Regions from separate parts of the Homo sapiens genome. Here regions 1 and 2 are each linked to region 3. The links come from fine-mapping of genetic effects on plasma protein levels. A gene starts in region 3. Each other region holds a variant in brackets. All regions are shown on one strand. Distances are between the middles of the regions.

Region 1 (2,745 bases), 19 kb after region 3:
AGAGGGAGTGGCCGGCCCTCGGAGCCCGGGCTGCCCCGAAACCTCCCTCGGCGCCCTGTTTGTTTTTTCAGCTTCTCTCAAAGCCCAAGAGTCACAAAAGTGGTTTCATTTAATAAATATTTGCTTTGCTCGGTGTTTTGATCATTTTCAAAACCGAGTGTGGCGTGGCGCAAGCAAAGCCCGCCGTGGCGGGACCCTCCTAGCGCTCGTCCCTGGCCTCACAGGGGCCTTTTGTTTCCACGCTGGCTGAGTGCCCTTTGCTGGGGTGGGGGGGCACTGGCCCGGAGGGGCCCTGGGGGGCCAGGACATTCCCCGCATTTATCCCCATTTGGAAGCTCCCTGGCTGGGGCTGTGACGGGGAGGTTCAGGTCTACGTCCTCCCTTGAGGGGATGAGCCACGGGGCTCAGGACCCAGGCCCAGCACTGTCCTGAGGCTGTGGCCCTCAGGGACCCTTACACCCTTTGGCTTTTGTGCTGGGCCATTGACTGTGCCCTCGCTAGAGGCAGCTTCTCCACCCCTTCCTCACAGGTCAGAGTTAGCGTATGGGACGTGGCCAGCCAGGCCCGATCCCTGCCCACCCCGAGCTGAGCACCAGGAATGGCCACCCCCGTGGGTGACAGCACGTTCCTGCCTCTCTCGCTCCGGGCAGTGGGTCCTGGCACCAGGGCTTCCTCCTTGCAGCCCAGCTCTGCCAGCCCAGGCCTCAGTGAGCTTGGGTCCCAGCTGCGGAGACCAGGCTGGGGGAGACACGGTCAGGCATGGGCAGCAGGTCCTGCCCCGGCTGCAGACCAGACTCAAGCTGGGCCTTGTGGAGGGTGTGGACCGGCAGGGGCCAGATGTGGGGGGTGGGTAGGATGGAGGCCAGAGAGGGCACGTGGCCTGTGGTCCTGGTGGTGCCGGTGCCCGGAGGGCTTCCCTGGGCTCTGGGGTCCCGGTGCAAGGCGCACCTGTCCTGGCTGCTCCTCCTGCAGGTGACGGGTGAAGCTGCCCTGCGGGGCACGACGCTGCAGTCGCTGGGCCTGACCGGGGGCAGCGCCACCATCAGGTAAGGGCAGTGCTGCTGGGGCCGAGGAGTCTATTTAGCTAAAAAAAAAAGTGGTCTCAAAGGAAAGGAGAAAGGACACGTGGCAAGTGGGGAGTAGGTGTACCCAGGCCCTCATCATGGAGAGCGCCTGGTGGCCTCTGCCTGCCTGTGGGCGTGGGGGCTGGGCTGCCCCGACCTCATCTCTGTGTCCCCCAGAGGGGCGGTGGATCTTGGGAGGGCGCATGGGGCAGGAGAGGGTGAACCGGGGGCGGGAGAGGGTGAGCCGGGGGCGGGAGAGGGTGAGCCTGGGCCGGGAGAGGGTGAGCCGGGGGTAGGCACCACAAGGTGCTTCCCTTGTCCTCTGGCCCCACTCAGGTTTGTCATGAAGTGCTACGACCCCGTGGGCAAGACCCCAGGAAGCCTGGGCTCGTCAGCGTCGGCTGGCCAGGCAGCCGCCAGCGCTCCACTTCCCTTGGAATCTGGGGAGCTCAGCCGCGGCGACTTGAGCCGTCCGGAGGACGCGGACACCTCAGGGCCCTGCTGCGAGCACACTCAGGAGAAGCAGAGCACAAGGGCACCCGCAGCTGCCCCCTTTGTTCCTTTCTCGGGTGGGGGACAGAGAC[T/A]GGGGGGCCCTCCTGGGCCCACGAGGCCTCTGACATCATCTTCAGCTAAGTTGCCGAAGTCCCTCTCCAGCCCTGGAGGCCCCTCCAAGCCAAAGAAGTCCAAGTCGGGCCAGGATCCCCAGCAGGAGCAGGAGCAGGAGCGGGAGCGGGATCCCCAGCAGGAGCAGGAGCGGGAGCGGGTAAAAGGGGCTCTAGGCCTTGGGACTTGGGGGTGTCCTTTCTCCTGATGTGTAGCCCTGCGTGGCTTTAGCTGGTCAGCCTGGTGGCGTGGCCGTGATGCGGGCAGAGGAACCCAAACGCGCAGAGGAACCCAAACGCGGGGCTCTGGACAGGAGCCTTCTGACTTCGCCCAGGAAGGAATTTAGGGGTAAGCAGGTGGTAGAGAAAGTAGCTTTACTGAGACGGTGGCTGTGTCTGCTCCGGGATGAGGCCGTGTCCGCTCCGGGATGAGGCCGTGTGGGCTCCGGGATGAGGCCGTGTTGGCTCCATGACAAGGCGGCAACTGTGTCAGCTCCGTGTTGGCTCCGTGATGTGTGGCACAGAGCAGGGCCGCCCTGGGGTGGTGCATGGAGGGCAGCAGCTCAGGGCATGGCCGTGGTCACATTTACATCCACTCAACTACATGCACGTTAAGGGGTGGGGCATTCAGAAATCTCTAGAAAAGGGGTGGTAACTTCCGGGTTATGGCCAGGGAAGGGGGAGCTGGTGAACGCATCAGCCAGTCTTCAATCTGGTCTGGAATCAAGCCCCACCTCCTACCTGAGCAGGGTCACTGGGCTTGTTCTTAGCTTCTCAGGCAAATGATTTTTTTTTTTCTGGGTTTTTTTTTTTTTTTTTTTGAGACAGAGTCTCACTGTGTCCCTAGGTGGGCGTACAGTGGCGCGATCTCGGCTCACTGCAGCCTCTGCCACCCAAGTTCAAGTGATTACTCCTGCCTCAGCCTCCCGAGTAGCTGGGACTACAAGCGCGCACCACCAAGCCCAGCTAATTTTTTTGTATTTTTAGTAGAGACAGGGTTTTACCATGTTGTCCAGGATGGTCTCAATCTCTTGACCTTGTGATCCACCCACCTCGGCCTCCCAAAGTGCTGGGATTAC
Region 2 (2,745 bases), 120 kb after region 3:
GCGGGCGCTCGCCAGCGGGCACCTGCTGCACCTCTGGGCCACCGCGCTCACCACCCAGCACAGCGTAGCCACGGAAGGGCATGGCGGTGGCGGGGACAGCCGCGATGTCGTTCAGCATGCTCAGGAAAGCCAGGTCCTGGCTGTGCCGGAGGCCCTGCTCCAGCAGCTTCTGCACGGCCTCAGGGGTGCGTCCGCTGGCCCGCAGCAGACGGGGCAGGGTGGCATGTGGGGCGGGTGCGGGGGGCGGCTGCGTGTTGGGCCTCAGGATGATGTGCACGTTGGAGCCCCCGAAGCCAAAGGAGTTGATGCCCACGTTGCCGCCACGGACGGGCAGGGGCTGGTCCACCACCTGCAGCCGCCCATCCAACAGCGCTGGGATCTCAGGGTTGGGGCTATGGAAGTGCAGGTTGGGGGCCCAGAGCCCGTGCTCCAGGGACAGCAGCACCTGCGGGGGTACGTGGTGGATGGGCAGCCGCCCCACTCCCTCTACCACTGCCTGAGCTGGGGGCAGGCACCTCCCCGAGACTCTCATGTGGGGCCAGGGTTCCAGGGCCCTCTCCGATGCACTTCCTGTCCCCAACCTAATTCTGCCATGGCACAGGGGTCCGAGGACTGAGCCGCCATGGCCCTGCCCTCAGCTTGGTCCAAGACCTCCCCTTCCGGCCTTGCTGCCTCCCAGCCTGATGTGGACCCACCAAAGCCTGGCTGTGGCCTGAACACTAAGGCCCCCTTGGCCCAGATGTTGCATCTCAGAGGCTGCAGAAGTTGGGGGGCAGAGGGCGTGAGTGATCATGGGTGTTGGGGCTCCTGTGCCTGGTCTCTCTAAAGGTCCCCAGGCCTCTGCTAGTGGGTCAGGAAGCTGTAGGGACGGGTGGGCGACACGGGAGACCCTGATGGTGCCGTGGACCCCCCCAGGCCTGCTCCTGCCTCGCTCTTCCCACCCAAGCGGCTCCTCCAGCTCGGCTCCGTGTCCGGCAGACGCTCTGCAGGGCATCAGGCCTCCAGGGAAGGCCCAGCGAGCCTGGCTACGAGCTCTCCCTGCTGTCAGCCTCAGTGCCTCTGCTCAGACCTGCAGCATAGCCCGGGGGACAGAGGCTCCTGGTGGGGAAGCCCCCGCCTCCACTTGGCAAAGAGAAAGCAGCAGTGCCCAGCCATGGCGCAACCCAGTCCCAGGGAGCAGGAGCCTGAGGGACCCCCAAGCCCAGCCCCACCTACCTTGGCCAGGGCTGCCAGCCCCGAGGCTGGCTCCGGGTGCCCCATGTTGGACTTGGTGGAGCCGATGAGCAGCGGCTCCTGGCGGGTGG[C/T]GCACAGGGCTCGGGTGATGCCATTCAGCTCCTGGGGGTCGCCCACCTGTGGGAAACATGGGGGGTGAGGGGCTCTGGCCAGGTCACCTCTCCAGGCATGGGCGTAGGTTAGGCTCATGGGGTGGTGAGTGGGGCGGGGGGGGGGGGCATCACCTTGGTGCCTGTGCCGTGGGCTTCGATGTATTCAAATGACTCAGGGGCCACTCCGGCCGACTGGTACAACGAGCGGATGAGCTGCTCCTGGATATCCCCTGAGGGGAAGGTCACGCCTGCGGAGGGCTCGGCTCAGTGCTGCAGCCCCAGCCCCGGCTCCCACCTGCCCCCCAGCACCCCGGAACCCCGGCAGAGCCCACCTTGCTCCTTGAAGCCATCTGTATTGGTGCCGGCGTTCAGGATGGTGGCGTACACCCGCCGGGCCAGGGACTTCTTGGTCAGCAGGACGGCCACCACACCCTCCGAGCGGCAGTACCCATTCCCTGGGTAGAGCAGCACCTCAGGCCCGGGGCTCAGCCCCACGCCGGCCCCCACCCCACCAGGAGGAGCTCTGGGGTGTGGGGTGGGTGCTTGGGTGGGGGATCCCCGGAGCTGGCAGGATCCTGCTCAGCGTGGGGACTGTGCGGGGGGCCGTCCTGTGCCACTGTCCCGCCTGCCCTGGCCGCGCAGCCGCACACTCACCCGCTGTGTCGAAGGCCTTGCAGGTGCCCTCGGGGCTGAGCATCCCCAGCCTCAAGAACTGCACGGAGGTGTTGGGCTTCAGCAGGACATTGATGCCCCCCACGATGGCGGCAGGGCACTGCCCGCTGTGGATGGCCTGGTAGGCGTTCTGCAGGGCCATCAGGCTGGAGGAGCAGGCTGTGTCCAGTGCGATGCTGGGCCCTGCAAGGAAGGGTGCTGCGGCTCAGGTGGGGCTGTGAGCACACGAGACCCCTGAGCACACCTCCTGCCACCAGGCTGGACACACACTGCACGGAGTGAGCCCACGCCACGTGGTTTCTGCTCAGCATGTGGGGACCTGAAGGCCACCCACCTCCGCAGGAGGCTGGGCAGGACCCACCTCTGAAGTCGAAGAAGAAGGAGAGCCGGTTGGCCATCATCGCTCGCTGGCAGCCCACCATGCTGTAGCCCACGAGTGTCTCGGGGTCTCGGCTCAGGGCCTCCGAGGTCTCAGAGCCGCTCACGCCCACCCAGACGCCAGTGTGTGTTCCTCGGAGTGAATCTGGGTTGATGCCTGCCACAAACAGTGGTCAAGGTGCCACGGCCGGGCCCCACAGCGCAGCCAGCCCACCCACCCACCCGGCTCTGGGGCGAAGGTCCCATCTTGGCCTCACTGGCTTGGGGTGAGGGGGGGTCCATCCCAGTGGGACCCTGGAAGGGGCCTAAGGAGGGTGAGGTGTCCTGCAGAGGGGCCAGAACAGAGCCTGTGGCCAGCAGCCAGCCCAGG
Region 3 (2,712 bases):
ATTTAATAACTTTTTAAAGAAGGGGAAGCTTGACCGAAAGTGACTATAAATGTAGAAGAAACAATAAACTTGGGAAGCCATGATTTTGCAGCTTTACGGTTTAACACTGAATCTACTCATTAACTGATGCTAAAACTGTTGGGCAAATGGTTATTGGGAAAACTTGATGCTTGTGGTCTCAGAGAATGACCTCACGCATGCCTTAATTACTCCACAAGGAGCCACGGACCTTGACCATGGAGGAATTCAGCAGACCCAAAGCTGACCAAGTGGTTCAACTTCACGTCCTCACTCATGGCCACGCTGATGTCCTGCACCTCCTGCTGACTTGTCACCTCCCTTCATCATTGCCCCAAACGTTTAACCAAGGATCCAGACTGTGGGACAGTCTAAGGAAAATAGGAACAGACTCTTCAAAAACGCCACTAAAGAATTAAAACCCACCAGGTGATGTGTGGCTCAGTAAGGTTCTGAGGTTGCACAGAGCATGGGACTGGCTGGCTGGATGGGAGGGCTATGGCTAGCCTGGGGCTTTCCCCAGGTTTCTCCAATGTACATAGATGTCCGTGTTTGTCAGCATACAGGTGTGTGTGGGTGACATGGATATGTCATCGACAGGAAGGCACAACAGCACCCATGCAGAGATGTCCTTAGACTCAGCAATGACTGCCGGGTGCGGTGGCTCACGTGTGTAATCCCAGCCCTGTGGGAGGATTGACTGATAACTGCACCAGTTCCCCCTTCCACAGGCTACTGGGCAGCTGAGCCCTAGCCAGGAGTCCGCAGAGACAGGCAGGCACATGGAGAGAGGAGTGCCAAGGCCCGGCTGAGCCATGGAGGTGGGGGGCGGGGCGGAACACGTGCGAGTGCTGTCCATGAGTGGCCCAGGTGCTGGGAGCTAAGCACATTCGACGGCTGCGAGTCAGGAGGGCAGCTCCTTCTGGAAGCCTGGAGCTGGTGAGGCCAGGTGCTTTCCCTGCTGCGGTGGCTGGCGATGGGAGTGTTTCCTGAGGCTGCCACCAAGCCCCTCCTCAGCATGGGTTGGTGCGGGAAGTCCTTGAGTGCCTGTGGGTCGGCAGGAGCTCCGGTGAGACTCAAGTTCGCTCACCCCACGGTTCTGAAACCGGTCTCCCGCCTTTCCTACCCTCAGGTTTAGGGACCGTCGCGGCAGCCCTAGGGCTGCCAGATTCTGCACTCCCATTTTAGGATGAAAGAAATCAGGTCTAGACTGAGGGCCACGAGTCCCAACACCCAGGGAGGATCCGTACAGGGGCGGGGGGACTGCCCCAAACCATAAGGTCAGGAGGTGGACGCTGACCACAGGGACAGGTGGGCAGGGAAGAGGCTCAGCTGCTGGAGTGGAGGAAGCCGGGAGGGTCGGGGGAGAGCAGGGCACCGAGCTGGGGACGTGTCAGGGACGAAGCGAGGGTGGGCGAGCGCGGACCGCTGGGACCCCGGGGCTCAGTGCCGCTCACCGGGGGTGACCGCGCGCCCAGCCCCGGCCCAGCCTGGCCCCGGCGAGCCCATCCAAGCCGCGCTTCCCGGAGGCAGAGGACGACCGCGCTTTCCGGGTCTGGCGCGGGCTTTGGCGGCCCAAGGGCGGGGCCGGGGCGCCGTGGGTGGGGAAAGGGCGGGGCCTGGCAGGACCCGGAAGTGCGCTGCGGCCCCGCCCCCTGGCCGCGTGGCTGCGCGTCCTGGCTGTTGCCGATAAAGTTGTTTGACGCCGGCCCGGCGGCGGGTCACGTGAGCGGAAAATGGCGGCCCCGGCAGGCGGCGGAGGCTCCGCGGTGTCGGTGCTGGCCCCGAACGGCCGGCGCCACACGGTGAAGGTGACGCCGAGCACCGTGCTGCTTCAGGTGCGGCCGCCCGCCCGGGGCGGACGGGTAGGCGGGCGGGGGGCGCTGCGCCGAGGCCCCGCCCATTGCGGTCGGCGTCCCGGTGTTCGGGGGCGGGGCCTCGGCGGCCAATGAGCGGCCTCCTGAGCGGCGGCCCCGCCCCCTGCTCGCCGTCACCTGCGCTTCCGCTGGGGTCCCGGGGGTCCCGGGGGTCCCGAGTGGGGGCGGGGCGGTGGCGAGCCTTCCCAGGGGTGAGGTAGAACGGCGCCGCGTGTCACCCGCATCGAGTACTCGGCGCCCGGCCGAGCCCAGCTCGCGAGGGCGCCGGGAAGAGGGAGGAGTGGAGCCCTAGACCCGCGTTCCCATTCCGGGGCGTCCCCCGGAGCGGGAGCCCGGGTTGCGCGGTGGCAGATGTCCCGGCCGTGGGGCCTGGAAGCGATTTTTGCCGAGTCACTCACTGCACTTTTACTTGGGCACCTTGTGACCGCGAATCAATTAAATGTAAAAGTATTGGCTGGGCGCGGTGGCTCACGCCTGTAAATCCCAGCACTGTGGGATGCCGAGGCGGGTGGATCACGAGGTCAAGAGATCAAGACCATCCTGGCTAAAACGGTGAAACCCCGTCTGTACTAAAAAAATACAAAAAAATTTAGCCGGGCGTGGTGGCGGGCGCCTGTAGTCCCAGCTACTCGGGAGGCTGAGGCAGGAGAATGGCGTGAACCTGGGAGGCAGAGCTTGCAGTGAGCCGAGATCGCGCTACTGCACTCCAGCCTGGGAGACAGAGCGAGACTCCATATCAAAAAAAAAAAAAAAAAGTATTTATTGAGCCTCTGCTGCGTGGGGGACCGTGAGGATCCGAAGGTGCACACGACTCGGA

Which allele goes with the higher level. Positions count from the first base shown, and alleles are read on the strand shown. Strength reflects both the effect of a copy and how common the allele is. Not every link is listed here.
With allele T in place of C in region 2, the plasma level of the protein whose gene starts at base 1,737 in region 3 is lower (moderate association).

The links. PIP is the chance, under the fine-mapping model, that this variant and not a neighbour inherited with it causes the effect. Protein levels are from antibody-based Olink assays in UK Biobank. Linkage for the fine-mapping came from a reference panel and not from the study's own genotypes, which makes the PIPs less certain.
Region 1: its variant is fine-mapped to the plasma level of the ASPSCR1 protein (UK Biobank, PIP above 0.99). The variant lies in the coding sequence of ASPSCR1. If it changes the protein, the assay may bind it differently, which can mimic a change of level.
Region 2: its variant is fine-mapped to the plasma level of the ASPSCR1 protein (UK Biobank, PIP above 0.99).

The regions. Positions count from the first base shown.
Region 1 is chr17:81,995,020-81,997,764 of GRCh38, forward strand. ASPSCR1 (ASPSCR1 tether for SLC2A4, UBX domain containing) reads left to right here. Exons shown (of 16, transcript NM_024083.4): 6 at 973-1,046; 7 at 1,401-1,827. Among named protein-coding and RNA genes, the nearest start is that of ASPSCR1, 19 kb to the left of the region's middle. The variant T/A (reference allele first, on the strand shown) is at 1,649.
Region 2 is chr17:82,091,240-82,093,984 of GRCh38, forward strand. FASN (fatty acid synthase) reads right to left here. Exons shown (of 43, transcript NM_004104.5): 4 at 2,359-2,532; 5 at 1,980-2,180; 6 at 1,658-1,780; 7 at 1,458-1,573; 8 at 1,216-1,350; 9 at 1-445. Among named protein-coding and RNA genes, the nearest start is that of SNORD134, 2.5 kb to the left of the region's middle. The variant C/T (reference allele first, on the strand shown) is at 1,305.
Region 3 is chr17:81,975,893-81,978,604 of GRCh38, forward strand. It overlaps ASPSCR1 (ASPSCR1 tether for SLC2A4, UBX domain containing), which reads left to right and starts at 1,737. Exons shown (of 16, transcript NM_024083.4): 1 at 1,737-1,856. The coding sequence starts at 1,755. LOC124904087 (a long non-coding RNA gene) reads left to right here. Exons shown (of 2, transcript XR_007065951.1): 2 at 219-443. It overlaps LOC105371939 (a long non-coding RNA gene), which reads right to left and starts at 1,593. Exons shown (of 2, transcript XR_933953.4): 1 at 1,476-1,593; 2 at 76-1,065. RefSeq lists enhancers at 349-1,122, 1,123-1,894 and a silencer at 1,373-2,232.